Homo sapiens: one gene and its partners. The protein of the gene in region 1 purifies or fractionates together with the protein of each later gene. This does not show direct contact. Each region holds a gene or a part of one and is shown in the gene's direction. Other genes may lie near its edges. The genes, in order: RCC1L, PRORP, THEM5, MTRES1, STARD7, NUDT19 and TEFM.

Region 1 (4,130 bases):
GAAATTCTGTCTCTACTAAAAATACAGAAGTTAGCCAGACGTGGTGTGCACACCTGTAGTCCCAGCTACTTGGGAGGCTTGAACCTGGGAGATGGAGATTGCAGTGAGCCGAGATTGCGCCACTGCACTCCAGCCTGGGCAACAGAGTGAGACTGTCTCAAAAACAAAAACAAAACCCCCGTAAATAGTATGTGTTCTTGGATTTGATAAATAACCTGTCATTTACTACTGAACAAACTTGACATTATAAATCAGTTCATGCTTTGTGGGAACTGCTTTTCAGATTTCATCTGCTGCTTGCGGCTATGGATTCACACTGCTGTCCTCTAAGACTGCGGATGTTACGAAAGTCTGGGGGATGGGACTCAACAAAGATTCTCAGCTTGGATTTCACAGGAGCCGGAAAGATAAAAGTGAGCATCCCTACCTTGTCTCCTCTTTGCCGGGATTGGTCTGAGAAAGCTCTTTTTTTGTATTTTTTTTGAGACAGAGTCTCAGTCTGTTGCCAGGCTAGAGTGCAGTGGCGAGATCCTGGCTCACTGCAACCTCCACCTCCCGGGTTCAAGTGATTCTCCTGCCTCAGCCTCCCGAGTAGCTGGGATTACAGGCACATGCCACCATGCCTGCCTAATTTTTGCATTTTTAGTAGAGTTGGGGTTTCACTATGTTCACCAGGCTGGTCTCGAACTCCTGAGCTCAGGTGATCCACCCTCCTCAGCCTCCCAAAGTGCTGTGATTACAGGCATGAGGCACAGCGCCCAGCCCTCCCTTTGGTGTTCAAGAACATGGTTACATAAACAAAGAAATAGCAAAGAAATAGAGGAAGACTTAAAGGGATGTTGTTTGAAACCATCTGGGCTAGGTTATTTTTTAGCCTCTTTGGTAACAATGTTGAACCCTCAGGCAAAAGGCAAGCACCTGGCATTTGCAGATAAGTAAAGATGTTCTTTTGTGGCCTAAAAGAGATGACCTTTTTTTCCTGGCTTGGAGACAGACAGCGTGAAGTACTCTGCAGTGCCTAGAATATGTTTTGGAGGGAAAAAGCATTGAAATCGTTAACATGGAGGCTTTATTCCAAATGTTTGAGCCTTGGATTGTAAAAATGTTAGAAATAACTTATAATGGCATTTTAAAAAGTAGACATTAGCCTGGCTGGGCGTGGTGCCTCACGCCTGTAGTCCCAGCACTTTGGGAAGCCGAGGAGGGCAGCCTGTAATCCCAGCACTTTGGGAAGCCGAGGAGGGCAGATCACTTGAGGCCAGGAGTTCGAGACCAGCCTGGCCAACATGGTGAAACCCCGTCTCTACTAAAAATATAAAAAATTAGCCGGGCATGGTGGCACGCACCTGTATAGTCCCAGCTACTTCGGAGGCTGAGGCACAAGAATCTCTTGAACCTGGGAGGTGGAGGTTGCAGTGAGTCGAGATCATGCCACTACACTCCAGCTTGGGTGACAGAGTGAGACTGTCCTAAACAAACAAACAAACAAACAGAAAAGTAGACATTAGCTAAAAATTACTGTGAGAACAGTAAGAAATATTTCCTTGGCCAGGCACAGGGGCTCACGCCTGTAATCCCAGCACTTTGGGAGGCCGAGATGGGAGGGATTGCTTGAGGCCTGGAGTTCCAGACCACGCTGGGCAACATAGCGAGACTCTGTCTCTAAAAAAAAGAAATGAAAAACGAAAAAGAATTAGCTGAGCATGGTGGCATGCACCTATAATCCTAGTTACTCCAGAGGCTGAGGTAGGAGGATTGCTTGAGCCCAGGAGTTTGAGGCTGCAGTGAGCGGTGATTGCGCCACCGCACTCCAGCCTGGGCAACAGAGCAAGATCATGTCTCTTAAAAAAAAGAAAAAAGAAAGAGTTCCTAAAATAGAGAGGAAATGCCAGGCGCAGTGGCTCACGCCTGTAATCCCAGCACTTTGGGAGGCCGAGGCGGGTGGATCACGAGATCAGAAGTTTGAGACCAGCCTGACCAACATGGTGAAACCCCGTCTCTACTAAAAATGCAAAAATTAGCTGGGCATGGAGGCGCGCGCCTGTAATCCCAGCTATTCGGGAGGCTGGGGCAGGAGAATCGCTTGAACTGGGAGGCAGAGGTTGCAGTGAGCCGAGATCGCACCACTGCCCTCCAGCCTGGGCGACAGGGCAAGACTCCGTCTCAAAATAAATAAAAGATAAATAAATAAATAAATATAAAATAACATAGGAAATTACCCAGAAGTACATACTGGACAAACCTTTCATTTTTGTTTTTTCCTGTTCCCTTGTTCACAGACAAATACATTTTTACATACATAGCATATATTTTGTTTTCTGTCTTTTTTCATTTATTTTGTATCAGATATCTTTTTTGTTTGTTTGTTTGAGATGGAGTCTTGCTGTCGCCCAGGCTGGAGTGCAGTGGCATGATCTCAGCTCACTGCAACCTCCACCTCCTGGGTTCAGGTGATTCTGTTGCCTCGGCCTCCTGAGTAGCTGGTACTACAGGCGCCCGCCATCACACCTGGCTAATTTGGGGATTTTAGTAGAGACGGGGGTTTCACCACGTTGGCCAGGTTGGTGTTGAACTCCTGACCTCAAGTGGTCCACCTGCCTTGGCCTCCCAGAGTGCTGGGATTACAGGTGTGAGCCACCATGCCCGACCTATATATCAGATGTCTTTTATAAGTCAGTATAGAAGTCTTTATTAGCTGTAAGATGTTACATTACTTTTTTTTTTTTTTTTTTGAGTCAGAGTTTCACTCTCGTTGCCCAGGCTGGAGTGCAATGGCGTGATCTTGGCTGACCGCAGCCTCCTCCTCCTGGATTTAAGCAATTCGCTTGCCTCAGCTTTCCAGGTAGCTGGGATTTACAGGCATGTGCCACCATGCCTGGCTAATTTTGTATTTTTAGTAGAGATGGGGTTTCTCCACGTTGGTCAGGCTGGTCTCAAGCTCCCGACCTCAGGTGATCCACCTGCCTCGGCCTCCCAAAGTGGTGGGATTACAGGCGTGACCCACCGTGCCCGGCCCGCGTTACATTTTTTATACCTTTTATTCAGAGCAATTTTAGACTTACAGAAGTGTGCAGAGTAGTATGATGTGGCATCACCAGCTTCAGGCATCATCAACTCATGCCAGTCTCGTTTTCTTCATTTTTCCCACCTTCCCCCTCAATAAATTTGAAGCAAATTCCAACAGTTTAATTTTTTGGGGGGGTAAGGGGAGACAGGGTCTTGCCCTGTCACCCATGCTGGAGTGCAGTGTCATGATCACTGCTCACTGCAGCCTTAACCTCCCTGGCCCAAGTGATCCTCCCATCTCAGCCTCCAAAGTAGCTGGAAGTGATCCTCCCACCTCAGCCTCCCAAGTAGCTGGGACCAACAGGCATGCACCATGATGCTTGGCTGATTTTTGTATTTTTGTATTTTTTTTTTAAAACAGTGTCTCGCTCTGTCTCCCAGAAGGCTGGAGTGCAGTGGTGCAATCTTGGCTCACTGGCAACCTCCGCCTCCTGGGTTCAAGCAGTTCTCCTGCCTCAGCCTCCTAAGTAGCTGGGACTACAGGCGTCCACCATCACGTCTGGCTAATTTTGTATTTTTAGTAGAGACGGGGGTTTCACCTTGTTGGCCAGGTGGGTATCAAACTCCTGACCTCAAGTGATCCGCCTGCCTTGGCCTCCCAAAGCGCTGGGATTACAGGCATGAGCCACTGCCCGGCCAAGATTTCTTTAATAAGAAGACGAAGTATGCATTTTTTTTTTTTTTCCAGATGAAGTCTCGCTCTTGTCCCCCAGGCTGAAGTGCAATGGCGCAATCTCAGCTCACTGCAACCTCCGCCTTCCGGGTTCAAGCAGTTCTTCTGCCTCAGCCTCCCGAGTAGCTGGGATTAGAGGCGCCCGCCACCATGCCCGGCTAATTTTTGTATTTTAAATAGAGATGGGGTTCACCATTTTGGCCAGGCTAGTCTCGAACTCCTGACCTCAGGTGATCTGCCCGCTTCGGCCTCCCAAAGTGCTGGGATTACAGGCATGAGCCACTGCGCCCAGCCAGAAGACCAAGTATGCTTTTCTGGAACCCGCATTATGTAATAGAGACAGCCCATGCCATGGGCTGGGAGTTGGGCTTCTGGTCCTTGCTCTGCGCCT
Region 2 (4,130 bases), on another chromosome or scaffold:
TCTAGTTCTTTAAGACGCATATTTGGCCGGGCGCGATGGCTCATGCCTGTAATCCCAGCACTTTGGGAGACCAAGGCTGGTGGATCACCTGAGGTCAGGAGTTCGAGACCGGCCTGGCTAACATAGTGAAACCCCGTTTCTACTAAAAATACAAAAAAAAAAAAAAAATTAGCTGGGCATGGCGGCGCACGCTGGTAATCCCAGCTACTCGTGAGGTTGAGGCAGGAGAATCGCTTGAACCCAGGAGGCGGAGGTTGAAGTGAGCCGAGATCACGCCATTGCACTCCAGCTTGGGCAACAAGAGTGAAACTCCATCTCAAAAAAAAAAGATGCATATTTAGGTTGTTTATTTTAAGTTTTTCTTCTGTTTTGATATAGGCACTTATAGCTGCTTTTGTTATATCCCACCGTGCCTAGATACATTTAATGTTATTATTGATAAGTAAGGACTTAGTCCTGCCATTTTGTTTTCTGGTTGTTTTGTGGTCTTATTTTTTCCTTCCTTTCTTCCCTTTAGTGAAGATGATTTTCTCTGGTGATATAATTTAGTTTCTTGCTTTTTATTTTTTGTGTATCTGTTGTATTTTTCTTTTTTTTTTTTTGAGATGGAGTATTGCTCTGTCGCCCAGGCTAGAGTGCCGTGGTGCGATCTTGGCTCGCTGCATCCTCCACCTCCTGGGTTCAGGAGATTCTCCTGCCTCAGCCTCTTGAGTAACTGGAATTACAGGCGCACACCACCATGCCCAGCAAATTTTTTTTTTTGTATTTTTAGTACAGACAGGGTTTCACCATGTTGGTCAGGCTGGCCTCGAACTCCTGACCTCATGATCTGCCTTCCTCAGCCTCCCAAAGTGCTGGGATTATAGGCGTAAGCCACCGTGCCCAGCCTTGTATGTTTTTTGATTGGAGGTTACCATGAGGCTCACTAATACTTAACTATAGCCTATTATTTTAAGCTGATAATAATTTAACACTGTATAAACAAACAAGCAAAAAGAAAACTAATAAAAACTCTACACCTTTACTTTGTCTCCCTGCTTTTTAACTTTTTATTGTTTCTATTTATATCTTACTGTACTATCAATGTCTTGAAAAGTTATAGTCGTTATTATTTTTGATTGGTTCATTGTTTAGACTTTCTTTTTTTTTTTTTTTTTTGAGACGGAGTCTCGCTCTGTTGCCTAGGCTGGGGTGCAGTGGCACAATCTCAGCTCACTGCAGCCTCTGCCCCCCAGGTTCAAGTGATTCTTCTGCCTCAGCCTCCCGAGTAGCTGGGACTACAGGTGCCCGCCACCATGCCCGGCTAATTTTTTTGTATTTTTTAGTTGAGACGGGGCTTCACCATGTTAACCAGGATGGTCTTGATCTCCTGACCTCATGATTTGCCCGCCTCGGCCTCCCAAACTGCTGGGATTACAGGCGTAAGGCACTGCCTCACTAAACTCATTGTTTAGTCTTTCTAAAGATAAGAGTAGTTTTAGTTTACACACCATAGTTACAGTGTTATAATATACTATGTCTTTTTGTGTACTTATTATTAACAGTGAGTTATGTACCCTCAGATGATTTCTTATTGCTCATTAATGTCCTTTTCTTTTTTTTTTTCATTGAGATGGAGTCTCACTCTGTCGCCCAGGTTGGAATGGAGTGGCACGATCTCAGCTCACTCCAACCTCCGCCCCCACTGGGTTCAAGTGATTCTTGAGTCTTACCCTCCCAAGTAGCTAGGATTACAGGTACCCTCCACCAGACCCGGCTAATTTTTGTATTTTTAGTAGAGACAGGGTTTCACCATGTTGGCCAGGCTGGTTTCGAACTCCCAACCTTACTTTATCCAGCTGCGTCGGCCTCCCAAAATGCTGGGATTACAGGTGTGAGCTACTGCACCCGGCCTATGTCCTTTTCTTTCTGCCATTTTTTTTTTTTAAATATAGAGACAGGGTCTTACTATGCTGCCCAGGCTGGTCTCAAACTCTTGGGCTCAAGTGATCTTCCCACCTTGGCCTCCCAAAGTGCTGGAATTATAGGCGTGAGTCACCAGAGTAACGGTCCTTTTCTTCTTCTTCTTTTTTTTTGAGGCAGTCACTCTGTCGCCCAGGCTGGAGTGCAATGGCGCGATCTCAGCTTACTGCAACCTCCGCCTCCTGGGTTCAAGTGATTCTCCTGCCTCAGCCTCTGAATAGCTAGGATTATAGGCGTGCACCACCAGACCTGGCTAGTTTTTGTATTTTTAATAGAGACGGGGTTTCACCATGTTGACCAGGCTGGTCTTGAACTCCTGACCTCAGGTGATCCACCCACCTCGGCCTCCCAAAGTGCTGGAATTACAGGCATGAGCCACCACAGCTGGCCATCCTTTTCTTTCTGATTGAAGTACTCCTTAGCATTTATTGTAGGATAGGTCTGGTGTTGATGTAATCTCTCAGCTTTTGTTTGTCTGGGAAAGTCTTTATTTCTCCTTCATGTCTGAAGGATATTTTCACTGCATATACTATTCTGGGGTAAAAGTGTTTTTCCTTCAGCACTTTAAATATGTCATGCCATTCTTTCCTGGCCTGTAAGGTTTCCACTGAAAAGTCTGCTGCCAGATGTATTTTAGCTCCATTGTATGTTATTTGTTTTTTTCTCTAGTTGCTTTTTGGTTTTTTTTTTTTTTGAGACAGAGTCTTGCTCTGTCACCCAGGCTGGAGTGCAGTGGTGCTATTTCGGCTCACTGCAACCTCCACCTCCTGGGTTCAAGCGATTCTCCTTCTTCAGCCTTCCGAGTAGCTGGGATTACAGGCATCTGCCACCATACCCAGCTAATTTTTATATTTTTAGTAGAGACAGGGTTTCACTATGTTAGCCAGGCTGATCTCGAACTCCTGACCTCAGGTGATTCGCCTGCCTCAGCCTCCCAAAGTGCTGGGATTATAGATAGGTGTGAGCCACCACACCTAGCCAATCCTTTCTTTTTTTCTTTTTTTGAGAAGAAATCTCACTCTTGTCCCCTAGGCTGGAGTGCAGTGGTGCTATTTTGGCTCACTGCAACCTCCGCCTCCCAGGTTCAAGTGATTCTCCTGCCTCAGCCTCCCAAGTAGCTGGGATTACAGGCACCTGCCACCACGCCTGGCTAATTTTTGTATTTTTAGTAGCGACGGGTTTCACCATGTTGGCCAGGCTGGTCTCGAACTCCTGACCTGAGGTGATCCGTCCGCCTCGGCCTCCGAAAGTGCTGGAATTACAGGCATGAGCCACTGCGCCCAGCCCCAATCCTTTCTTTATCCGTTGAAGGTTGGATTATTCAACTGGGTGTGGTGGCTCACACTTGTAATCCCAGCACTTTGGGAGGCTGAGGTGGGTGGATCAGCTGGGGTCAGGAGTTCGAGACCAGCCTGGCCAACGTGGTGAAACCCCGTCTCTACAAAATATATAAAAATTAGCCAGGCGTGGTGGCGGGCCTCTGTAATTCCAGTTACGTAGGAGGCTGAGGCAGGAGAATCGTTTGAACCTGGGAGCCGGAGGTTGCGGTGAGCCAAGGTCACACTACTGCACTCCAGCCTGGGCAACAAGAGCAAATCTCCATCTCAAAAAAATAAAAAACAAGAAAAAAAAGAAAGTTGGATTATTCGTCCAGGCATTGTGGCTCACGCCTGTAATCCCAGCACTTTGGGAGGCCGAGGTGGGTGTGAATCACCTGAGTTTAGGAGTTTAAGACCAGCCTGGCCAACATGGTGAAACCCTGTCTCTACTAAAAATAAAAAAAAATTAGCTGGAAATGGTGGTGCGTGCCTGTAATCCTACCTACTCGGGAGGCTGAAGCAGGGGAATCATTTGAACCCGTGAAGCGGAGGTTGTAGTGAGCCAAGATTGCGCCACAGTACTCCAGCCTGGGCGACAGAGTGAGACTCCATCAAAAAAAAAAAAAAAAGGGAAGAAGGAAAGGAAAGGAAAGCAAAGCAAAGGAAAGGGAAGGAAGAAGGAAGAAGGAAGGAAAGTAAGTTTGATCATTCAATGCTTTGAGTTAGTGTTTTTTTGTTTTGTTTTGTTTTGTTTTGTTTTGTTTTTTTGAGACGGAGTGTTGTTCTGTTGCCCAGGCTGGAGTGCAATGGCATGATCTTGGCTCACTGCAACCTCTGCCTCCCAGGTTC
Region 3 (4,925 bases), on another chromosome or scaffold:
GTAGCAAGCGCCTGTAATCCCAGCTACTTGGGAGGCTGAGGCAGGAGAATTGCTTGAGCCTGGGAGGCAGAGGTTGCAGTGAGCCGAGATGGTGCCACTGCACTCCTGGGCAATAAGAGTGAGACTCTGACAAAATAACAACAACAAAAAAAAATGGTTCCCCCAGTCCTTGAGGAAGTTTAATTCAAACCTTTGCAGGAGGTGAGGGGAAATATTTATATTCTAGTCTTCTTCTAGGGCAACCAAATACAGAGGGTGAACCAAATCTTTTAAATTTCCGCATTAAATCAGTTTCATCTTTTGGAACCTGCCAAAATGTCATAATCATCACAACTATTATTATCGTCATCATCACTGTTATGATTCCACCTTTGCACAGTTCTGATTTTTTTTTTTTTAAGACAAGGTCTCACTCGGCCTCCCAAAATGCTGAGATTACAGCCTTGAGCCACTGCGCGAGGACTGATCTTTAGAACATGCTTTTATTTTAGTCAATTTAAAACTGAGACTTTTAATTGAAAATTGGCAGTTTAAATTCAATAGAAGACACACCACCACCAAATCCCACTGCCTTGCAGATGTTGGCTGAGTGTCCCTTCCCACTCAACAAAGCCTCACTGCCGCGCCCACCTCACTCCCAGCACTGCCTGCTGACATGAGCCACTCCCTGGGCACGGGGTTCCCAAAACATGAGAGTATCCCTGCCAAGCTGTTTCCTCCCAAATTATTTTCTGCCCTCCCTGTCAAGCCCTCCCCCACCTCCAACTCCTATCCCCAGCCAGAGACCAGCAGGTGAAACTCTCCTGTGCTAACCCTTGTCCGGGATATAAGAAGAGGTGTTGGCCGGGTGCGGTGGCTCACGCCTGTAATCCCAGCACTTTGGGAGGTCACCTGAGGTCAGGAGTTCAAGACCAGCCTGGCTAACATGGCAAAACCCCATCTCTACTAAAAAAAATATACAAAATTTAGCTGGGTGTGGTGGTGTGTGTCTGTAATCCCAGCTACTCAGGAGGCTGAGGCAGGAGAATCACTTGAACCCAGGAGGCGGAGGTTGCAGTGAGCCGAGATCACGCCATTGCACACCAGCCTGGGCGACAAGATTGAAACTCCGTCTCACCAAAAAAAAAAAAAAAAAAAAAAAAGAGGTGTCTAAGGCTGTGAGTTGGTTTTCTTTTTTTTTATTTTTTTATTTTTATTTTTTTGAGACGGAGTCTCGCTCAGTCGCCCAGGCTGGAGTGCGGTGGCTAGATCTCAGCTCACTGCAAGCTCCACCTCCCAGGTTCACGCCATTCTCCTGCCTCAGCCCCCTGCGTAGCTGGGACTACCGGCACCCGCCACCACGCCCGGCTAATTTTTTGTATTTTTTTTAGTAGAGACGGGGTTTCACCGTGTTAGCCAGGATGGTCTCGATCTCCTAACCTCGTAATCCGCCGCCTCGGCCTCCCAAAGTGCTGGGATTACAGGCGTGAGCCACCGCACCCGGCCTGTGAGTTGGTTTTCTGAGTCACAAAATCATACCAGAGTTTTCAGAGTCCGGTATACACTGCAGAGCACATACCAAGAACACTCCACCAGCACCCTCCAATCAAGGGACAGGCTTCCCTTATCCTTCTGGAAATATTCTTGGATTCTCCCTCAGAACCCCCAGGCAGCTCTCCAAGGCTCTATATACCCCATACTATTTGTTTATGTACTTGTTTACTCCTTTTGCAACTCAAGCCAGTCCTGCTGCCTTTTCATGCCCAAGCAGCATCTGTCCCTCCCCAAGCACTGGGTGGGGCTCCTAGACCAGCTAAAGGCGCCGAGCATCTGTGGGTGTTGCAGCACACCAGCCCAGCCTCGCCTAGCTCTCTGAAAGAAAGCCTGCAACAGAAGGGAGAGAAGCGGCCCCAAGTGCAGCTGAAAGCACTCCTTGGGAGTCAGCCAAGACCCTCCATCCAAGCAGGGCTGGATCCTTGCACTTGGCCATGATAAGGAGATGCTTCCAGGTGGCAGCAAGACTTGGCCACCACAGAGGCCTTCTTGAGGCCCCCCGTATCCTGCCCAGACTCAACCCTGCCTCAGCATTTGGATCCTCCACAGACTCCATGGTGAGTTCCCAGCTCAGCCAGATGGGCAGTGTTTTCCCAGGAGCCTAGGGCTTAAGGAGCACCCCAAATCTCCTCTTCCCAGCCCATGGCCAGGGCAGGTGGGCAGTGTTCGGAGGAGCTATTTGATTTGGCAAAGAGAAAGTGCTCTGGGATACCAAGTTGCCCCCATTCAAAACTAAAACTACCAGGAGACCTGCATCTGGCTCTGTGTCTTGTGTGGCCACCAACAAATGACTTTCCTCCTGTGGGACTCAGACTACTGCAGCAAAGCTGGGGTATCCCCAGACAGAGGACCCCATCTGTGGCATTGGCAAGCAGCTCACATGCTGTCTACAGTTGTGACTGGTGTATGAGCAGGTGACGCTACAGAGGACTTCCTTACGTCACACAGATGGGCACATAGTCTGTGCCCCAGCCATGGCACCACACCTCTGTGGGGGCCCAAATGTGTTTCAAAGGAGCCACCCTGCCCAGGCAGGCCCACAGCAGTGGGCAGAGCTGGAGTAGCCCCTGAGGTGGGGGTTGCTAGAATGGTCCTCAACAACTGTGACCCTGCCCTGCAGAGGAGACAGCATCTAGTGCGACCACCAGCTCTCACAGTCACATGCTTGGCAACCTTGGCCGTATTCCCTCAGTTTCCCCATCTGTACAGTGAGGCTAATATGAGCAGTTGTCAACTTTAAAGAACTGCTCACATGTTTTAAGCAGAACAAGGGTAAGGCACCACATCGAGCAGCATGCCCATCATCTCTGGCCCCACTCCCTGCCCGCCCTTCCCTTGCTCTTTAGCATCCTTATGCCCCGTCACCCATAGGGGTCCGCAGCCCCCCTGCAAGGAATATGGGCCCTTTCCCTTGGATCGATACTCTGGCAGAAGGGATTGAGAAGCCCCAGCACCCAGGAACAGCTGTTTAGAGGTCCCGAGCCCAGGCAGCAGCCCCCCTCCAGGATGCTGTCTAGTCATTCTGATTTTTCCTGCCCAGTTCTCAAGATTCTTGCCAGAGAAGACAGACTTGAAGGATTATGCTCTTCCCAATGCCAGCTGGTGTTCGGACATGCTGAGCCTGTACCAAGAATTTCTGGAGAAGACTAAGTCTAGCGGCTGGATCAAGCTGCCCTCCTTCAAGTCCAACAGAGACCACATCCGGGGACTCAAGCTCCCATCTGGACTGGCAGTTTCCTCAGGTAAGGACAGGACCATGAGTACACACACCCCAGCCGCCCTTCCCTGTGTTCTAAGACTGAGAAGCAACTTCACAGACCGCCTTCCAGTTCTCAGCGAGTTCTTCCTGCTGTCCAACTCCACCCCTGATGCTGCAGCCCCAGGCAACAGGCGGCGGGTGTCCTCTCAGGTCTCCAGCTCCCCTCCTCCCATCTGAAGCAGCACACCCTGGTGGGCCCACCTTCGCTCCCAGCCAAGCATGTCCCCACTGGAGGACAGCCAGCCCAGCTCCTGCCCCGACTTCTCACTGACTGCCCCTCCCTAACTATCAAGCCTCATCCCAAGCCTTCCGCCCCAACCCCATGAAAGCCCTTGGACCCCACACCCCTTCCACTGAGGCCCTGCACATCATCCCTGCTGTGCGGGGTCTGGAGCAGCACTCCTGAAACACCTAATGATCCTAATGGATCCTAATGATAGAGCTTCCACCTTCTTGTGTGTGTGTGTGCACTCGTGTGTGCACGCATGTGTATCTCCCTGTCTCTCTCACTCATATATGTTGTCTTCCTGCCTAGTGATGAAGGAGTGGTACAGGGGACAGACTACCCTTGGGTTTATGGCACAAACAAAGCAGGAATACCAACATAATTTTTTTTCAAAGAATTTGATACTTCCAAAAAAGGATGTAGTAGTGGTAGCTGTCTTGGAAAAAAAAAATCAGAACTTTGATGGACTTTTCTGCTCTTATTTTACTGTTTACTATTATTCTTTTGAATTATATGTGAGTTACATGAGTAATTACATTTTCAATTTTCAATGCTTATGGTCTCTTAAAGTCTTGCCCTGGCCCTGATCCTATCTCCATTCTCAGCCAGGGCACTTCCTGCATGTTTCTGCCCTAGACAGAAAGGCTCTGTGAGGACAGCAACTGTGCCTCTGCTCCCAGAGGGAAGGCTCCCTGGGGGTGGACCTGGTGTCCTCTGGTTTTCTCTCCTTAATCTTGTACCAGAGGCAAGACTCAACCAAATGGTGCTGCATCCTGACCATACCCTCCCTTCTCCGGCTGCAACACTGCCTATCTCTCCCCAGACAAAGGTGACTGTCGCATCTTCACCAGGTGCATCCAAGTGGAAGGACAAGGCTTTGAGTATGTCATCTTTTTCCAGCCAACCCAGAAGAAGTCGGTCTGTCTTTTCCAACCAGGCTCCTACCTGGAGGGGCCCCCAGGGTAAGGTCACTGGTAGGACCTTGGCTGCCTCCTGGGCTTGGCTCAGCAGGGCAGGTTCAGCACCCACCAGGCTGGCCCTGGAGTCTCTATCTTTCTCTAAGGGGTGAGGAAGGGAGTGTGGGGCACTAGGCTTCAGCCTCACAATACCAGGCCTGGAAGGACACACAGGGTTATCTGGCCTAATCCCCAGTGTGCAGATATGGGCTTCTCATCAAAGTCTCAAAATTTTCTGGACAAAAGACCTGAGAGGCCACTTTGAGAAGAATGTGGTACACTTGGAAGAGGGCAAGATCCGGAATCTAGACTCTGACTTGGTGTCCTGCCTGGCTGCTGCTGGCTGTGGGACTCTGAGCAAGCAATTGACCCCTGGTCTTTAGTCTTCTTACCTGAAACCTGGGGCAATAATATCTACCTGCCAGGGTGACCAGAGATATGATATTATGGG
Region 4 (4,620 bases), on another chromosome or scaffold:
CATGCCATTGCACACCAGCCTGGGGGCCAGAGCAGGCCTCATTCTCAAAAACAAAAAAACAAAACAAAACAAAAGAAAAAACAGGGAAGAAGATTAAGTGGCAAGTGAGGTAGGTGAAACCAATGGGGTATCCTATAACTCAAGTAAGTTGAGGAATGAGACCAGACCTTTGGATTTACATTGCAGAGGTCATCTGTGACTTTGACTAGAAGTTTTGTTAGAATGTTGCAGGGTGACATCTTGTTTGGTGTATGAGTCAGAGTTCTCCACAGACAGACCTAATGAGAGAGGGATGGATGGATGGATGGATGGATGGATGGACGAATGGATGGATAGTTGGTTGGGAGGGAAAGGGGAATTGGCTCACGTGTAAATTGCGTTGGTCTTGAAAAGATGTTTCCTTAAACTGCGAGTCTGACGTATTTGCACATTTTTCTGGAAACAACGCCTATATCTCTTGGAGATGTTCAAAGAGGGCGGGCTCGGTGGCTTACACCTGTAATCCCAGCACTTTAAGAGGCTGAGGCTGGAAGATCGCTTCTCTTGAGTCCCAGCCTGGGCAATATGGCGAAACCCCATCTCTACAAACAAAACAAAACAAAACAAAAATTAGCAGGCCGTGGTGGCACACACCTGGAGTCCCAGGTACTGGGGAGGCTGAGGTGGGGAGAACAGCTTGAGCCTGGGTAGCAGAGGTTGCAGTGAGCCGAGATCGCACCATTGCACTCCGGGCAACAGAGTGAGACCCTGTCAAAAAAAAAAATGTTCAAAGGGGTTAGTGGTCCCAGAGAAAGGATCACTTCATTAATAATTAAGATGATTAGCCGGTCATGGTGGCTCACGCCTGTAGTCCCAGCTACTTAGGAGACTGAGGAACGACAATCGCTTGAACCCGGGAGGCGGAGGTCGCAGTGAGCTGAGATTACGCCGCTGCACTCCAGCCTGGGCAAGAGTGAGACTCGGTTTCAAAAAAAAAAAAAAAAGAAAAAAGAATTAAGATGGCCGGGCGCGGTGGCTCACGCCTGTAATCCCAGCACTTTGGGAGGCCGAGGAGAGCGGATCACGAGGGCGGGAGATCGAGACCATCCTGGCTAAAACGGTGAAACCCTGTCTCTGCTAAAAACACAAAAAAATTAGCCGGGCGTGGTGGTGGGCGCCTGTAGTCCCAGCTACTCAGGAGGCTGAGGCAGGAGAATGGCGTGAACCCGGGAGAATGGTGTGCCCCGAGCCTACTTCCCGCGCAGTCCTCCAAGACGCGGCCTCCAGCAGGGGTCGCTGCTTCGCTGCCGCCCTGGCCTCGCGCCCCGCCCGACCCGCTCTCACTGCGCCGGCGCCGGCGGAAGGGGCGGGGCGCAGATAGGGGTAGCCTGGAGGCCTGCAGTCCGCGCGGCCGCGGGGAGGGACGAGAGGGCCTGACGTACAGGTGAGTGCGCCTCTGCTGGCGCGCCGCGCCGGGCCCCCTGCCCGCGCCCCCTGTCACTTCGCCTCTCCGCCCCGCCCACGCTCCCGCCGGGTCTCCCCGTGAGTGTCCCGTGTCCTGCCAGCCTCGGGACGCCCCGCGAGCTCAGGGCTGCGCAGGGACTGTGGTAATTGAGCGCGGCGAAGCCTTCCGTTCCTGCCTCCTGTCGCTCCTGCTGGCTCCGAATGCAGACTGCGAACCCGGGGACGCAGTTGTCCATTTCCTTTGACCTTGGGGACCCAGGAAGGTGCACTGCCCGCGGGGGTGGGGAGGGAGCGAGAGGAATCCGACCCTGTCTCAGCCCACAGCCTCCGAGGTCTCCAAGTAAAGGGAAGGATCTTTAGCTGCATTAGACTTCAAAGCGTTTAGACCAGTTTCTCCATCTTACGGAGCGGTGAACGGGCTCAGGAATGTGGAGCGTTTCCTGGCGTCAAGCAGGTCAAAGTCAGCGCTGCTTTTTTTACAGACACTGCTTTTCTTACAGTCTTCGGTTAGTTCAGATTGTATACCTCTCCTGAAGATGTCACCCAAAACCTCCTATGGGATTCTGCCGTGATCATCTCTCCACTCATCCCACACCAACGCCAAAGAGATCTTTTAAAATGAACTTCCATCAGGTCACTTCCCAGGGTCCATCATTGCGTGTTCTTTTCCTGATTCATTCGAATGCACCCGTCCTCCTGATCAATTTTTATTCCACAGGGTGTTGTTTTGTTTTGTTTTGTTTTGTTTTTTTGAGACGGAGTCTTGCTCTGTCGCCCAGGCTGGAGTGCAATGGCGGGATCTCGGCTCACTGCAAGCTCCGCCTCCCAGGTTCACGCCATTCTCCTGCCTCAGCCTCCCCAGCAGCTGGGACTACAGGCGCACACCGCCACACCCGGCTATTTTTTTTTTTTTTGAGACGCAGTCTCGCTCTGTCGCCCAGGCTGGAGTGCAGTGGCGCGATCTCTGCTCACTGCAAGCTCCGCCTCCCGGGTTCACGCCATTCTCCCGCCTCAGCCTCCCGAGTAGCTGGGACTACAGGCGCCTGCCACCACGCCCGGCTAATTTTTTGTATTTTTAGTAGAGACGGGGTTTCACCGTGTTAGCCAGGATGGTCTCGATTTCCTGACTTCCTGATCCGCACGCCTAAGCCTCCGACAGTGCTGGGATTACAGGCGTGAGCCACCGCGCCCGGCCTGTTTTGTTGTTTTTTTTTTTGACACTCGCTCTGTCGCCGAGGCTAGAATGCACTGGTGTGAACTCGGCTCACTGCAGCCTCCCCCTCCCAGGTTCAAGCGATTCTTCAGCCTCAGCCTCCCAAATAGCTGTGACTACAGGTGTGCACCACCACGCTTGGCTAATTTTTGTATTTTTAGTAGAGACGAGGTTTCACCATGTTGACCAGGCTGGTCTTGAACTCCTGGCCTCAAGTGATCCGCCCGCCTCAGCCTCCCCAAGTACTGGAATTACAGGCATGAGCCACCGCGCCCATACTATTTTTATTTTAGATCTCACTGTGTTGCCCAGGCTGATCTCAAACTCTTGGACACAAGCGAGTCTCCTGCCTTGGCCTCCCAAAGTGCTGGGATTATAGGCGTGAGCCACCTGCCTGACCTCATCTTGCCCTCTCAATCCCCCTTACCCTGCTCCACTTTCTTCCCCCAGTGCATTAACCACCAGCTATCATATAATTTACAGGGTGTTTTTTTTTTTGTCTACCTGTTTCCCCTACTAGACTATAAACTCTACAAGAATAGGAATCTTCGTATTTTTTTCCTCTGCTGAATTCCTAGTGCCCAGATTAGTGCTTGGCACATGGTAAGTGCTTAATTAAGGGGAGGATGCCAGTGTTGCTGAAGCTGAATTTGCAAGAGTCAAATTGGCAGATGAGGTTGGAGAGGAAATGGGGGTTGAGGGAGCACCAGATCCTATAGAGCCTTTAGACCATCGTAGAGACTTTGCTGTTCTCTGAGTGCTTTGGTAGGGATTTGAGGAAAGGAGTGACATCGTATGAATGACTTTATTATGTGCCCACGTGGAGGTGTCAAATAGGCAGCTATTGTGTTGCAGGTCCCCAGGTTCATTGATTCACTAAGAGGACTCAAAAGACTCAGCACGTAGTCATACTCACAGCTGTGATTTATTATAGCAAAAGGATACAAAGCAAAATAAGCAAAGGGAAAAGATGCATGGGACACAGTCTGGAGGAAACCCGGTGCAGTCTTCTAAGAGTCCTCTCCTAGTGGAGTCACATGGGGTATGCTTAATTCTTGCAGCATCAAATTATGACAAGACGTGAGAGATCTATCAGGAAAGCTTGTAGAGCTCATTTTTCCAATAAAAAGTCACATAGGCACTGTCTGCCTAGAATGTGCCAAAATTTCCGCCGCCCAGAAAAAAAGCAGGTGTTTAGAATCACATTGTACAGTTTCCAGCACAGTGAGCCACTCTTATCCAGGTGGGAATTGTGGGAACCCTCGTGAAGTTCAAGTTCTGAGACACTAGCCAAGGGCCAACTTTGCAAGCAGGCATTCTAAGGATAGCAGTCTCAGGCCTGTTATGTTAACTCGTTTCTGCACAGATGTACGAGTCTGGAATTTGGGAGAAAGTTCTGGAATGGGGATATAGATTAGGGTGTGGTTGGCATATAGGTGGTATTTAAAGCCACAGAAATGATTGATGTCTTGATAATGCATTTGTAAGAACTAATTGGGTACATTTAAGAGCTGAGCTGGATAAAGTGAATGTAGAAGAGAAGAGGACCAAAGATAGAGCCCTGGGCCGCTCCAACTTTAAGATATCAGGGAGGGCCGGGCACAGTGGCTCAGGCCTGTAATCCTAGCACTTTGGGAGGCTGAGGTGGGCGGGTCACTTGAGGTCAGGATTTCCAGACCAGCCTGGCCAAGGTGGTGAAACCCTGTGTCTACTAAAAATATAAAAAGTGGCCGGGTGTGGTGGTGGGCGCCTGTAATCCCAGCTACTCTGGAGGCTGAGGTGGGAGACTATGGCTTGAACTGGGGAGGCAGAGGTTGCAGTGAGCCAAGATCGCGCCACCCACTGCATTCCAGCCTGGGCAACAGAGGAAGACCCTGTCTCAAAAAAAAAAAAAAGAAAAAAAAAGAAAAAAGGAGAAGAGAAGGAGGCAGCAAAGGAGTCTTTTCTTTTTTTTTTTTTTGAGA
Region 5 (4,130 bases), on another chromosome or scaffold:
TCCCCAAGGACAAAGTAGTGGCAATCCATTGGTTCCCTCTTATCTGAGAGATAGTTAAAAGAATCATAGCCACTGACGCATTAGCCTGTATCAGTAGCATTCTTCAGGAACTAGAGCGAGTACCTCCTGTCAACATTTTACTACAGTGGGCAGAGCACTGGATGGAAACTTTTCTGGATTTCTGCTTCCTTGCCAGAGTAATGGGAAGATTGGACTCATGCTGTCTGCCTTCTTTAAAATTCTGTGACCTTTCTTTGAAAAGAATATTTATTTCAGCCTAATGAGGTGTTTTGTGTTTATTTTTTATCTTTTTAAGCTAAATCTCCACTGAGAGTATAGATATTGATGCTAGTGGCTGCTGGTTTTAGTTCCACTTCACCTTATAATGGCTTTGTTTCTCCCTATTGCTTGTGTTCGATTTAGGGCTATATGGACAGTGTTCTTTAGTGTAGTTTTCTTATTCTCATCAAGTTGTTTTATTTATACCACCTCAAGGACTTGAGTTGGTCCTTGTAAAAAAAAACAAAAAAAAAAGTACACTGGATAGAGAGGAAAGCAGGCAGGGCACTAGGGTTAGAAGACATGATTCAAGCAAAGACAAAGATAGGAATGAGCCAGGTATGCACTGAGAGACTCACATGCTTAGAGAGGAAAGTAGAGGTTAGGGAGAAGTGATAAATTGCATTGACTGTGTACAGAGGGTACTCGAAAACCATGTAGCTGAGTTTGGATTTGCCAAATGGGAATTAGATCTTTGAGCCAAGGTAGGGGGTTTTTATCATGGAAAATTTGAAATAGATACAAAAGATACAGAAGTAGAAGAGTATAATGAACCCCCTGTATCCATCCCCAGCTCCAGTTATCAACTTATGGCCAAAATTGTTTTATCTATACCCTTTCCCATTTCCTTTCTCACTCCCCTGATTATTTTGAAGCAAATTCTAGCTTTACTGTAGGAGAACCCAGTTCTTCTATTATATATTTCAGTATTTATCTCAAATAAGGATTTTGGGTTTTTTTGGAAACAGGGTCTCCCACTGTTACCCAGGCTAGTGTGCAGTGGTACAATCACAACTCACTGCAGCCTTGACTTCCTGGGCTCAGGTGATCCTCCTGCCTCAGCCTCCTGAGGAGCTGGGATTATAGGCGTGTGCCAACATGTCAGGCTAATTTTTTGTATTTTTTGTAGAGATGGGGTCTCACCATGCTGCGCAGGCTGGTCTCAAACTCCTGGACTCAAGCAATCCTCCCACCTCAGCCTCCCAAAATGCTGGGATTAGAGGCGTGAGCCACTGTGCCCAGCCCAAGTAAGAAATTTGTAAAACAGCTCTGGGCCAGGCAGCATGGAGAGACCCGGTCTCTACAAAAAATAAAAATTAGCCAGGCATGGTGATATGTGCCTGTAGTCCCAGCTGCTTGGGAAGCTGAGGTTGGGAGAATCACTTGAGTCCAGGAGGTCAAGGCTGCATTAAGCCGTGTTTGTGCCACTGCATGCCAGCCTGGGCAACAGTTTGAGACCCTTCTCAAAAAAAAAATAAAAAATAAAAAAGCCAGGCGCAGTGGCTCACGCCTGTAATCCCAGCACTTTGGGAGGCCGAGGCATGTAGATAACTTGAGGTCAGGATTTTGAGACCAGCCTGGCCAACATGGTGAAACCCTGTCTCTACTAAAAGTACAAAAATTATCCAGGCATTGTGGCACGTGTCTGTAATCCCAGCCACTTGGGAGGCTGAGGCAGGAGAGAATGGCTTGAACCTGGGAGGCAGAGGTTGCAGTGAGCCAAGATCGTGCCGCTGCACCCCAGCGTGGGCGACACAGTGAGACTCGTCTCAAAAAAAAAAAAAAAAAAAGACACAGACTTAAATGTACTTAGTTTTTAAATATATTATCCTTATTGATGCTCAAATTGATTCCAGTTTTGGTCATTGGGAGTCTTCTTGTTGGCTCAAGCCCCTTTGACATGACCCCAGAAGCTGTCTTGCTTTCTGGTGTTACAAGATGTTGTAGGTTCATCTTGTATATTTTTAGTTTTACACCTGGAAATTAACATTTCTTTAGGGAGTCCTGGTTCCTTTTAGTGGAAAATGGCATTTAAATACCACAATTTGGCTGCTAAGAATATTCATAGCTATTGGGTCGTTTATTGTTTGTAGGCCTTTTCAGAAGACAGAACCAAGTAATACATTTTACTGGTATGTTTATTTTTAAGATAAAATAAATCCTAAGTATATACTAATACTTTTAATTCAAATTCAGGACTATGGAGTTTTTATTTCTATCTTCTATCTTTTGTCTTTCCCTGTACTGTAGAACTCAATTCCCAGGAACCCTAACACAACTACTAATTTGTTGAAATACACAGCCTCAGAATAACAATACAGTAAGATCACCAATAATACGAAGAATAAAATTTTGTGGTCTTTTTGTCTTCAGGATGTGCATACTGTGTACAAAATATTGATTTTTTTTTTTTTTTTTTGGAGACGGAGTCTCGTTCTGTTGTGCAGGCTGGAGTGCAGTGGTGCGATCTTGGCTCACTTGCAACCTCCACCTGCCAGGTTCAAGCAATTCTCCTGCTTCAGCCTCCCAAGTAGCTGGGATTACAGATGTGCACCACCACGCCTAGCTAATTTTTGTATTTTTATTAGAGACAGGGCTTCACCATGTTGGCCAGGCTGGTCTCGAACTCCTGACTTCAAGTGATCCGCCCGCCTCGGCCTTTCTGAGTGCTGGGATTACAGGCATGAGCCACCGTGCCCAGCCCCCAGCTAAGATTTATGACAGTGTCAGAGTAAAGATATGCAGCTGGATCATAAGAGAAAAAGGCACAGGAGGAGTCTGGAGGAGTCCATGTGAAGCTTCCTTCCCCAGCAATGAAATGTAGCAATATGTGTGCAATGTTTCTGTTTAGGAAGGCCATTAGAAATTTAACACTCTGGCTGAGCACGGTAGCTCATGCCTGTAATCGCAGCACTTTGGGAGGCTGAGGCAGGAGGATCTCTTTAGCCAAGGAGTTTGAGATCAGCCTGGGCAACACAGGGAAGACCCAGTCTCTGCAAAAAATAAAAAATTAGTTGTGGTGGTAGTGCATGCCTGTAGTCCCTGCTACACAGGAGGTTGAGGTGGGATGACTGCTTGAGCCCAGGAGGTGGAGGCTGTACTGAGTCGAGATTGCATCACTGCACTCCAGACTGTGCAACAGAGTGAGACCTTGTCTCAAAAAAAAGAAAAAAAAAACACCCAAAGTGTTTTTTTTGTTTTTTTGTTTTTGTTTGTTTTGTTTTGTTTTTCTGAGATGAGTTTCGCTCTTGTTGCCCAGGCTGGAGTGCGATGGCGTGATCTTGGCTCACTGCAACCTCCGCCTCCCGGGTTCAAGCAGTTCTCTTGCCTCAGCCTCCCGAGTAGCTGGGATTACTGGTGTGTGCCACCACACCTGGCTAGTTTTTTTTTTTCTTTGTATTTTCAGTAGAGACAGGGTTTTGCCATGTTGGCCAGGGTGGTCTCAAACTCCTGACCTCAGGTGATCCATCTGCCTCAGCCTCCCAAAGTGCTGAGATTACAGACGTGAGCCACCACACCCAGCCCAAAGTGTTTTTTAAAGACGGAGTCTTGGCTGGGTGCAGTGGCACACGCTTGTAATCCCAGCACTTTGGGAGGCCAAGGTGGGTGGATCACTTGAGGTCGGGAGTTCGAGACCAGCCTGACCAAGATGGAGAAGCCCCGTTTCTACTGAAAATACAAAATTAGCTGGGCATGGTGGTGCATGCCTGTAATCTCAGCTACTGGGGAGGCTGAGGCAGGAGAATCACTTGAACTCAGGAGGTGGAGGTTGTGGTGAGCCGAGATTGTGCCATTGCCCTCCATCCTGGGCAACAAGAACGAAACTCTGTCTCAAAAAAAAAAAAAAAAAAAAAAAAAAGTCTTGGTCTGTCACCCAGGCTGGAGTACAGTGGCTCAATCTGTGCTCACTGCAACCTCTGCCTCCCGGTTCAAACGATTCTCCTGCCTCAGACTCCCAAGTAACTGGGATTACAGGCGTGTACCACCACGCCCAGCTAATTTTTTAACTTTCAGTAGAGATGGGATTTCACCATGTTGGCCAGGCTGGTCTCGAACTCTGGTCCTCAAGT
Region 6 (3,366 bases), on another chromosome or scaffold:
TGGCACACATCACCACATCACAAAGCATTTTGGTTGCTGAAGTCCCCATAGGGCCTAGGAGAGCTTTGTGGTGTCCATCATTATATCCTCAGGATCTAGCCAAGTACCCATTTCCCAGAGGAATGAACAGGCACCAAATTCTCCATCTACTGTGATGAGTTTACCCTTCAGAGTCTTTCTTCTTTCAGCAGGGACCGGAACCACCTTACCCTCTCTGCATCTCCCACCTCTTATGCTGAACAGCTCTCCCAGGTCAAGCCTCAGGGGTCTGCCCTGGTTTATTTACTAGTTCTGAGGATCAGTGTCCTAATAAGCAACCTCTTAAGAGGATCAACCCAGCTTTCTTCACTGAATCTTTTCATGTTGTCTTTGAGGGATCTCACAGGGCGCATTAATGAATTCATTTTACACATTCAGTTCTACCTTAGGTACTGGTCTGACTGTCTCAAGTCTCACATTGTCTATGGCATAAACCTTAAGAAACCCTGCCTTTGTCTTTCACAGTGGTCATCTCCATCAGAGGCAACTGAAAGTTTCTTATCAAAAGAAATTTGGTTGCCACCCCCACAGTTCTACGAAGTGAGAAGACTTGCAAACTTTGCCTCTCTCTCTGACTTGCACAAATTTTGTTTGGGTCGTGCATTAGAAGGACTGGAAAGGTGGCTGCCGATCATCTTGTTAACTGCTGATGGGATGGTCCATCTTTTACCAGGTAAACCAGTGAAGCATCGGTGCTTTTGTTAGTATTCACATTCAGTGCCCTGGGCTGCATGGCTGTATTGCCCAACGTAGAGACAGGAATTACAGTCTGTGTTTTGTAATCTACAGGGTATTAGCTAAGTAAGATCAAAGCCTATAAAATATCCATATTATTATAACCAGAAATTCTGCATAATGTCATATACATACACATACATTTATATTAATATATTTCCTAGACATTGACAAAGGTCTTTCTCATATAATTTCTCACTTTTTTTTTTTTTTTCTGAGACAGTTTCCCTCTGTCACCCAGGCTGGAGTGCAGTGGCACAATCTTGGCTCACTGCAACCTCCACCTCCCAGGTTCAAGCAATTCTCTGCCTCAGCCTCCCAAGAAGCTGGGATTACAGGTGCCCACCACTGTGCCCGGCTAATCTTTGTATTTTTTTTTTAGTAGATACGGGGTTTCACCATCTTGGCCAGGCTGGTCTTGAACTCTTGACCTTGTGATCCACCCGCCTTGGCCTCCCAAAGTGCTGGGATTACAGTCATGAGCCACCATGCCTGGCTGATTTCTCACTTTTTTGCATTTTAAGTTTGAATTACGAGAACTCGTAAGTTGTCATCTAATTTGAATTAGGGAGCTTTTTTTTTGAGACAGAGTTTTGCTCTTGTCACCCAGGCTGGAGTGCAATCTGGGCTCACTGCAACCTTTGCCTCCTGGGTTCAAGCGATACTTCTGCCTCAGCCTCCCGAGTAGCTGGAATTACAGGCATGTGCCACCACGCCTGGCTAATTTTTTTGTATTATTAGTAGAGACAGGGTTTCACCATGTTGGCCAGGCTGGTCTTGAACTCCTGACCTCAGGTGATCCGCCCGCCTCAGCCTCCCCAAATTCTGGGATTATAGGCATGAGCCACTGTGCCCAGCCAACTTTGTTTTTTTTTTTCAGTTGGACATAATTTCAATTGAAATTATGAATTATGAAATTATGAAGAAAATAAAGTAAAATGTTAACTCTATCTCAACTGAAAATACAAAAAAAAAAAAAAAAAACAAATTAGCCAGGCATGGTGGCACACACCTGTAATCCCAGCTGCTCAGGAGGCTGAGGCAGGAGAATCACTTGAACCCAGGAGGTAGAGGTTGCAGTGAGCCAAGATCATGCCACTGCACTCTAACCTGGGCGACAGAGCGACACTCTCTGTCAAAAACAAAACAAAACAAAAGGCTGGGCGCGGTGGCTCACACGTGTAATCTCAGCACTTTGGGAGGCTGAGGCGGGTGGATCACCTAAGGGCGAGAGTTCGAGACCGGCCTGACCAACATGGAGAAATCCCGTCTCTACTAATAATACAAAATTAGCTGGGCATGGGGGCGCATGCCTATAATCCCAGCTACTTGGGAGGCTGAGGCAGGAGAATCACTTGAACCCAGGAGGCAGAGGTTGTGGTGAGCTGAGATTGCGCCATTGCACTCCAGCCTGGGCAACAAGAGCGAAACTCCATCTCAAAAAAAAAAAAGATTTATTACTCAACCTACAGTGGGAAAATTTAGCAGTTTTGATGGAATTTCTCTAAATTAACCTGAAGATGATAAGAACAGCCCACTTTGAAACATCAAAAGTATATGAATATCAAGGCCAATCTTAATATCAGTATTGAATAGAATAAAGAGAGTCATGAACTGGTATAATAGTTACAGTTCACAGTGGAAACATACCAGTCACAGATGTTTATGGGCCCAAAGAAAACTCTTGGCTGGGGTGTTGTAAGGGGATATTAAAAACACAAGAAAGAGGACAGGCGCAGTAGTTCACGCCTGTAATCCCAGCACTTTGGGAGGCCGAGGTGGGTGAATCATTTGAGGTCAGGAGTTTGAGACCAGCCTGGTAAACATGGCGAAACCTGTCTCTACTAACAATACAAAAATTAACCAGGCGTGGTGGCAGACACCTGTGATCCCAGTTACTCGGGAGGCTGAGGCATGAGAATTGCTTGAGCCCAAGAGGTGGAGGTTGCAATGAGCCGAGATCGCGCCACTGCACTCTAGCCTGGGCAACAGAGTGAGACTCCATCTCAAAAAACAGATAAAAAAACACAATAAAGAAATTGAGGTAAGCTCATAGAATTAGATTAGTTAACAACTATCTCAGTTCCAAACATATTAAATAGATCAAAATAAATACTGATTTAACAACTATCTCAGTTCCAAACATATGAAATAGATAAAAATACTGATTTGTATTTCATTAGTATATTGGAGTGATTTATAAAATAATACTCGATGGAATTAAAATTTTATACTTTCTGCCATGGTGAAAAATAATTTTGTATTTAAAAATAAAATCAGATTTTTTCCTTTTTCAGGTGATGAGCTATATTTAGAAGATTCAGACTTTTTGGAAAATCTTATGTCTACTGAAAAAAAGACTGAGGAAATCATGAAGGAAGGCAAGCAGTTTCACCGGATAGTGACATACCATCGCCACCTTTATGATATCCACGTGACTGTTCAGCCAAAGTATAAACACGTTTATCCTAAGAACTCTGTAGTAAGAAAAAGCCATTTGTAGGGTGCTTAAGCTTGTTTGTAAAATGGCCTACTTGAAGTCCTCATGAATAATGAGGGTTGACTTTCATTTGCTTGAAACTTAAGGAAGTT
Region 7 (4,633 bases), on another chromosome or scaffold:
TTCCTATGAGCAATTTTTTTTCTTTTTTTGAGACAAGGTCTGGCTCTGTCCCCCACGCTGGAGTGTGGTGACACGATCTCCACTCACTGCAACCTCTACCTCCCGGGCTCAGGTGATTCTCCCACCTCAGCCTCCTGAGTAGCTGGGATAACAGGCGTGCTCCACCACACCCGGCTAATTTTTTCGTAGAGACGGGGTTTCGCCATGTTGCCCAGGGTGGTCTGGAACTCAAGAGCTCAAGCGATCCGCCCGTCTCGGCCTCCCAAAGTGCTGGAATTACACTTTGGGAGCCACTGCTCCCGACCAGCACATTTTATTAATACTTATGATTCCCCTACATCCCCACTGCCTTCCAGACACAAACAATCAACCCATTGCTGCCTCATAAAAACGCAAACTCATCACCTTTCCCTCCCTCCTGAATTCCCCGTTTTTCACAAAACTGGCTCCCCATCTTCCAGAAATAATTCTTTTCTTTCCACTCTCCTTACATCTCCTAGGTTCAATTCCTTACGGTTGGCCAGGCGCAGTGGCCCACGCCTGTAATCCCAGCACTTTGGGAGGCCGAGTCGGGCGGATCACCTGAGGTCAGGAGTTCGAGACCAGCCTGGCCAACATGGTGACACCTGTCTCTACTAAAAATACAAAAATTAGCCGGGCGTAGTGGCGCTCGCCTGTAATCTCAGCTACTCGGGAGGCTGAGGCACGAGAATCACTTGAAATCGGGAGGCGGAGTTTGCAGTGAGTCCAGATCGCACCACTGCACTCCAACCTGGGCGACAGAGCAAGACTGTTAAAAAAAAAATTCCTTACGCTTGCCTCTCACCTGGGAAGATACACTCTCTTCGCGACTTCTCATTGCTCCCAGGCTCTTCACCTGCAATCCAGCCTCACATTCGCTATACAGTATATGGCCAATTTTCTAGGAACACTCTCCAGTCTGACTGCAAATCATAAACCTCGGGGACTTCAGGCTTCCTATCTGGTGGAGTATTCAACTGCTCCACCCATTATTCAAGGACCAACTAAATTCGGCGCTACATTCATCTCCCTTTATCCCTTCTAAGAGGAATACCGCTCCAGCGCCAACGCAATCTCCTCCTCCCTCGCCTTTACCTAATCCCTTGCCTGCCCTGTTTCCCCGCTGAGCTCCTCAAACACTTCGCATCTCTCCCCGTTATTCCAGTCTACCTGGTGAAAAGGTTATTTGAGGACCTTGTCTACGCTGCCCCTACCTGATCCCGCTCCCGGCGCCACAGGCTGGGCCCCAACAGGAGCTCCTCAATCTAAGTGTCTAGGAGAAACCCAGGGAGTCTCCACGAAGGAGGCACTTTACCCACTACAGACTAAAACTGGCCTCGGAATCGCCTTCCTGGAGATTCGGCCCAGCGGCTCTCAGGAGTCGGTAGGGGCAAGAACGTTTCCCCGGTGCAGTGGAAGAAGACTGCGGGCCAGCCAGGGACTCGGGATCCGGGGACAGGGCCTCGGCAGGCGCCCGCCTGGAAGCCCGCAGCCCAGACGCGGACGACCCACTGCTCAGCGGGACACACCTCGGGCCTTGCCCCGGAACGCCGCTTGGACAACAACCTTTCCGCCGAGTGCAGGCCGAGCGCTTTTGGGCGCAGCACGCAGGAACCGGAAGTCAATGGAGGAAGACTGGACCTACTGATTCAACTTGGAGATGAGCGGGTCTGTCCTCTTCACGGCGGGAGGTAGGGTGCTTGGAACACTGGGGTGATTTCCCGTCTGTCATTAGCCTCTGACCCTAGAGGCTAATGGAATACGGCGGGAGGTAGGGTGCTTGGAACACTGGGGTGATTTCCCGTCTGTCATTAGCCTCTGACCCTAGAGGCTAATGGAATACGGCTGGAGGTATTCTGGAGGAACCTGGAGTGTTTCCTTCCTCATGTCCCTCATGTCCTAGAGTGTTTCCTTCCTCATGTCCCTTGTTCAGGCCCCTCTCTTGGGGCCCCAGCCTAGCTGACGGGGCAGTTTTCGGAACATTTGTGCTTCCCCGGCCTCAGGGTCCACGGGTGGCTCCTCAGAGTGGGCGGATGGTTCACATTCTCACAGCCGCTTGCTTACCTCTGGCCACATTACTTTCCTGTGGCTGCGATGTTAGAGTGACTTCCCACTGGTTTTACAAAGTTATGCATTGTATGGTGTTTCTCATACTTGCAAAAACGTCATGTAGAAGTCTTGAAAAGTGTACGGAAGAAAGTAAAACTGCCCTTAAATCTATCACTTAGCTGAAACATTTCTTATAAACGTACAAAATTTAATTTTATTTAGTTCCACCAGATGAGATACTAAAATGTGAAAATGGAAGTGAAGACAAAACCCTTTTTTTTTTTTTTTTGAGACGGAGTTTCGCTCTTGTTGCCGAGACTGGAGTGCAATGGTGCGATCTCGGCTCACCGCAACCTCCGCCTTCCGGGCTCAAGCGATTCTCCTGCCTCAGCCTCCCGAGTAGCTGGGATTACAGGCATGTGCCACCACGCCCGGCTAATTTTGTATTATTAGTAGAGACAGGGTTTCTCCATGTTGGTCAGGCTGGTCTCGAACTCCCGACCTCAGGTGATCCGCCCACCTCGGCCTCCCAAAGTGCTGGGATTATAAGCGTGAGTCACCGCGCCCGGCCTAAGACAAACCTTAACAGGAAATATTAGTTACAAAAAGATTCCTCTAAATTAAAAATATCAGAAACTTTAAGCAGTTGGAATAATTATTTCAACTACTTGCTTCCTGATGGGTATAAAATACAATTTTCTAGGTAGTAAAACTTCGGACTGATCCATAAATATCGGGAGACATCTCTCGTGACTTGAAAACAACAAAAGCTCTATTTAAAACTCTATATAATATAGTTTAAAAACTAATCCTCTTTTAAAGATGATTCTCGGGCCGGGCACAGTGGCTCACGCCTGTAATCCCAGCACTTTGGGAGGCTGAGGTGGGCGGATCACGAGGTCAGGAGATGGAGACCATCCTGGCTAACACTGTGAAACCCCGTCTCTACTAAATATACAAAAAATTAGCCGGGCGTGGTGGCAGGCGCCTGTAGTCCCAGCCACCTGGGAGGCTGAGGCAGGAGAATGGCGTGAACCTGGGAGGCGGAGCTTGCAGTGAGCCGAGATCGGCCACTGCACTCCAGCCTGGGCAACAGAGCAAGACTCCGTCTCAAAAAAAAAAAAAAAAGATGATTCTCCAAGACAATTTAATATTGTCCTCTATTAGTTCTTAAATTCCAGGAAAGTATTTGTGACTTTGCAAAGGATCTAGTCAAGCTTGCAACTAACCCCAAAGGAAGTAGGACATCCAACTTATATTTTGCTAAATTTTCCTTTTAGAGAGGTGGAGATGCTTTCTGACCCCGTCGAGGTCATCCCTGTACTGGGCCTTACATAATTTCTGCTGTCGGAAAAAATCCACTACACCTAAGAAAATTACTCCCAATGTTACTTTTTGTGATGAAAATGCAAAGGAGCCCGAAAATGCACTTGACAAGCTCTTCTCTTCAGAACAGCAGGCTTCCATCTTGCATGTGTTGAATACAGCATCTACTAAAGAACTTGAAGCTTTCCGATTGCTTCGTGGAAGAAGGTCCATCAATATCGTAGAGCACAGAGAAAACTTTGGGCCATTTCAGAATTTAGAGAGTTTAATGAATGTGCCCTTGTTTAAGTATAAAAGTACAGTTCAAGTTTGTAACTCCATACTTTGTCCAAAGACTGGACGGGAAAAAAGAAAGTCACCGGAAAACCGGTTCCTGAGAAAGCTCCTCAAACCAGACATAGAAAGAGAAAGACTTAAGGTATATTCTTCATGTCTGCTATACTGCCTAATATTTGAGAACCTACTCTAGAAAGCACTCTTCTGGGCATTGGGTTGGGAAGTGGCTAAGACAGGGTTCTTCAGGTTTAGTTGGCAAGTATATGATCACTACCAAATAATGAGATGTACAGATAGTAAATTGGCAGTTGAGAGGAGAGAAAACAATGGGCTGTGACTGTTGTGGAAAGTTTACTGGAAGAACTCAATTTAGGTCTTAAAAGAGAGATCCTTTGGATGGGAGAGGAGGGCATTGTAGGTAGAAAGAACAGTTGATGCTGAGAAGCAGGTCTAGGCAAGGCTTATTTAAGAGGAGTGTCGTTGGAGATACCAGGCTGTGTCTAAGGGTGATGTTAGGATTAATGAGAAATTAAGGAGCAAAGATAGGTTATGGCCAGTGAGTGACTTTAGAACATTATACCAGTCTTTCCGGCAGAATTTAAAATTATTTTCTGTACCTTTTCTCCTTTAAAAAGCATTTTATCTTGAATCATGCAAGTCTATAGGTAAGATTAAAAAAAAAAAAAAAAAGCGGCTGGCTCACACCTGTAATCCCAGCACTTTGGGAGGCCAAAGCGGGCGGATCACAAGGTCAAGAGATCCAGACAATCCTGGCCAATGTGGTGAAAGCCCATCTCTACTAAAAATACAAAATTTAGCTGGGCATGGTGGCGTGGGCCTGTAGTCCCAGCTACTCGGGAGGCTGAGGCAGGAGAATCTCTTGAACCTGGGAGGCAGAGGTTGCAGTGAGCTGACATCACGCCAGTGCACTCCAGCCTGGCTACAGAGCAAGACTCTGTCT

The links.
Region 2: the proteins of RCC1L (region 1) and PRORP purify together in Homo sapiens (affinity purification with mass spectrometry; one large-scale study listed by BioGRID and IntAct). This does not show direct contact.
Region 3: the proteins of RCC1L (region 1) and THEM5 purify together in Homo sapiens (co-immunoprecipitation; one large-scale study listed by IntAct). This does not show direct contact.
Region 4: the proteins of RCC1L (region 1) and MTRES1 purify together in Homo sapiens (affinity purification with mass spectrometry; one large-scale study listed by BioGRID and IntAct). This does not show direct contact.
Region 5: the proteins of RCC1L (region 1) and STARD7 purify together in Homo sapiens (affinity purification with mass spectrometry; one large-scale study listed by BioGRID and IntAct). This does not show direct contact.
Region 6: the proteins of RCC1L (region 1) and NUDT19 purify together in Homo sapiens (affinity purification with mass spectrometry, with the first as the bait; one large-scale study listed by BioGRID). This does not show direct contact.
Region 7: the proteins of RCC1L (region 1) and TEFM purify together in Homo sapiens (affinity purification with mass spectrometry, with the first as the bait; one study listed by BioGRID). This does not show direct contact.

What each region holds. Positions count from the first base shown.
Region 1 is NC_000007.14:75,066,923-75,071,052, reverse strand, and holds part of RCC1L (RCC1-like G exchanging factor-like protein), read left to right. Parts: intron 1-283; coding exon 284-413; intron 414-4,130. UniProt on the Homo sapiens protein: Guanine nucleotide exchange factor (GEF) for mitochondrial dynamin-related GTPase OPA1. Activates OPA1, by exchanging bound GDP for free GTP, and drives OPA1 and MFN1-dependent mitochondrial fusion. Plays an essential role in mitochondrial ribosome biogenesis.
Region 2 is NC_000014.9:35,128,891-35,133,020, forward strand, and holds part of PRORP (mitochondrial ribonuclease P catalytic subunit isoform 1 precursor), read left to right. Parts: intron 1-4,130.
Region 3 is NC_000001.11:151,850,608-151,855,532, reverse strand, and holds the start of THEM5 (acyl-coenzyme A thioesterase THEM5), read left to right. Parts: upstream 1-1,820; 5' UTR 1,821-1,967; coding exon 1,968-2,090; intron 2,091-3,073; coding exon 3,074-3,275; intron 3,276-3,997; exon of another isoform or gene 3,998-4,341; coding exon 4,342-4,480; exon of another isoform or gene 4,481-4,925. UniProt on the Homo sapiens protein: Has acyl-CoA thioesterase activity towards long-chain (C16 and C18) fatty acyl-CoA substrates, with a preference for linoleoyl-CoA and other unsaturated long-chain fatty acid-CoA esters.
Region 4 is NC_000006.12:107,026,849-107,031,468, forward strand, and holds the start of MTRES1 (mitochondrial transcription rescue factor 1), read left to right. Parts: upstream 1-1,350; 5' UTR 1,351-1,423; exon of another isoform or gene 1,424-1,998; coding exon of another isoform or gene 1,999-2,076; intron 2,077-3,161; exon of another isoform or gene 3,162-3,256; coding exon of another isoform or gene 3,257-3,259; intron 3,260-4,620. UniProt on the Homo sapiens protein: Mitochondrial RNA-binding protein involved in mitochondrial transcription regulation. Functions as a protective factor to maintain proper mitochondrial RNA level during stress.
Region 5 is NC_000002.12:96,188,056-96,192,185, reverse strand, and holds part of STARD7 (stAR-related lipid transfer protein 7, mitochondrial isoform 1 precursor), read left to right. Parts: intron 1-4,130. UniProt on the Homo sapiens protein: May play a protective role in mucosal tissues by preventing exaggerated allergic responses.
Region 6 is NC_000019.10:32,708,681-32,712,046, forward strand, and holds part of NUDT19 (acyl-coenzyme A diphosphatase NUDT19 precursor), read left to right. Parts: intron 1-504; coding exon 505-712; intron 713-3,071; coding exon 3,072-3,277; 3' UTR 3,278-3,366. UniProt on the Homo sapiens protein: Fatty acyl-coenzyme A (CoA) diphosphatase that hydrolyzes fatty acyl-CoA to yield acyl-4'-phosphopantetheine and adenosine 3',5'-bisphosphate.
Region 7 is NC_000017.11:30,903,247-30,907,879, reverse strand, and holds the start of TEFM (transcription elongation factor, mitochondrial), read left to right. Parts: upstream 1-1,641; 5' UTR 1,642-1,681; coding exon 1,682-1,712; intron 1,713-3,350; coding exon 3,351-3,814; intron 3,815-4,633. UniProt on the Homo sapiens protein: Transcription elongation factor which increases mitochondrial RNA polymerase processivity. Regulates transcription of the mitochondrial genome, including genes important for the oxidative phosphorylation machinery.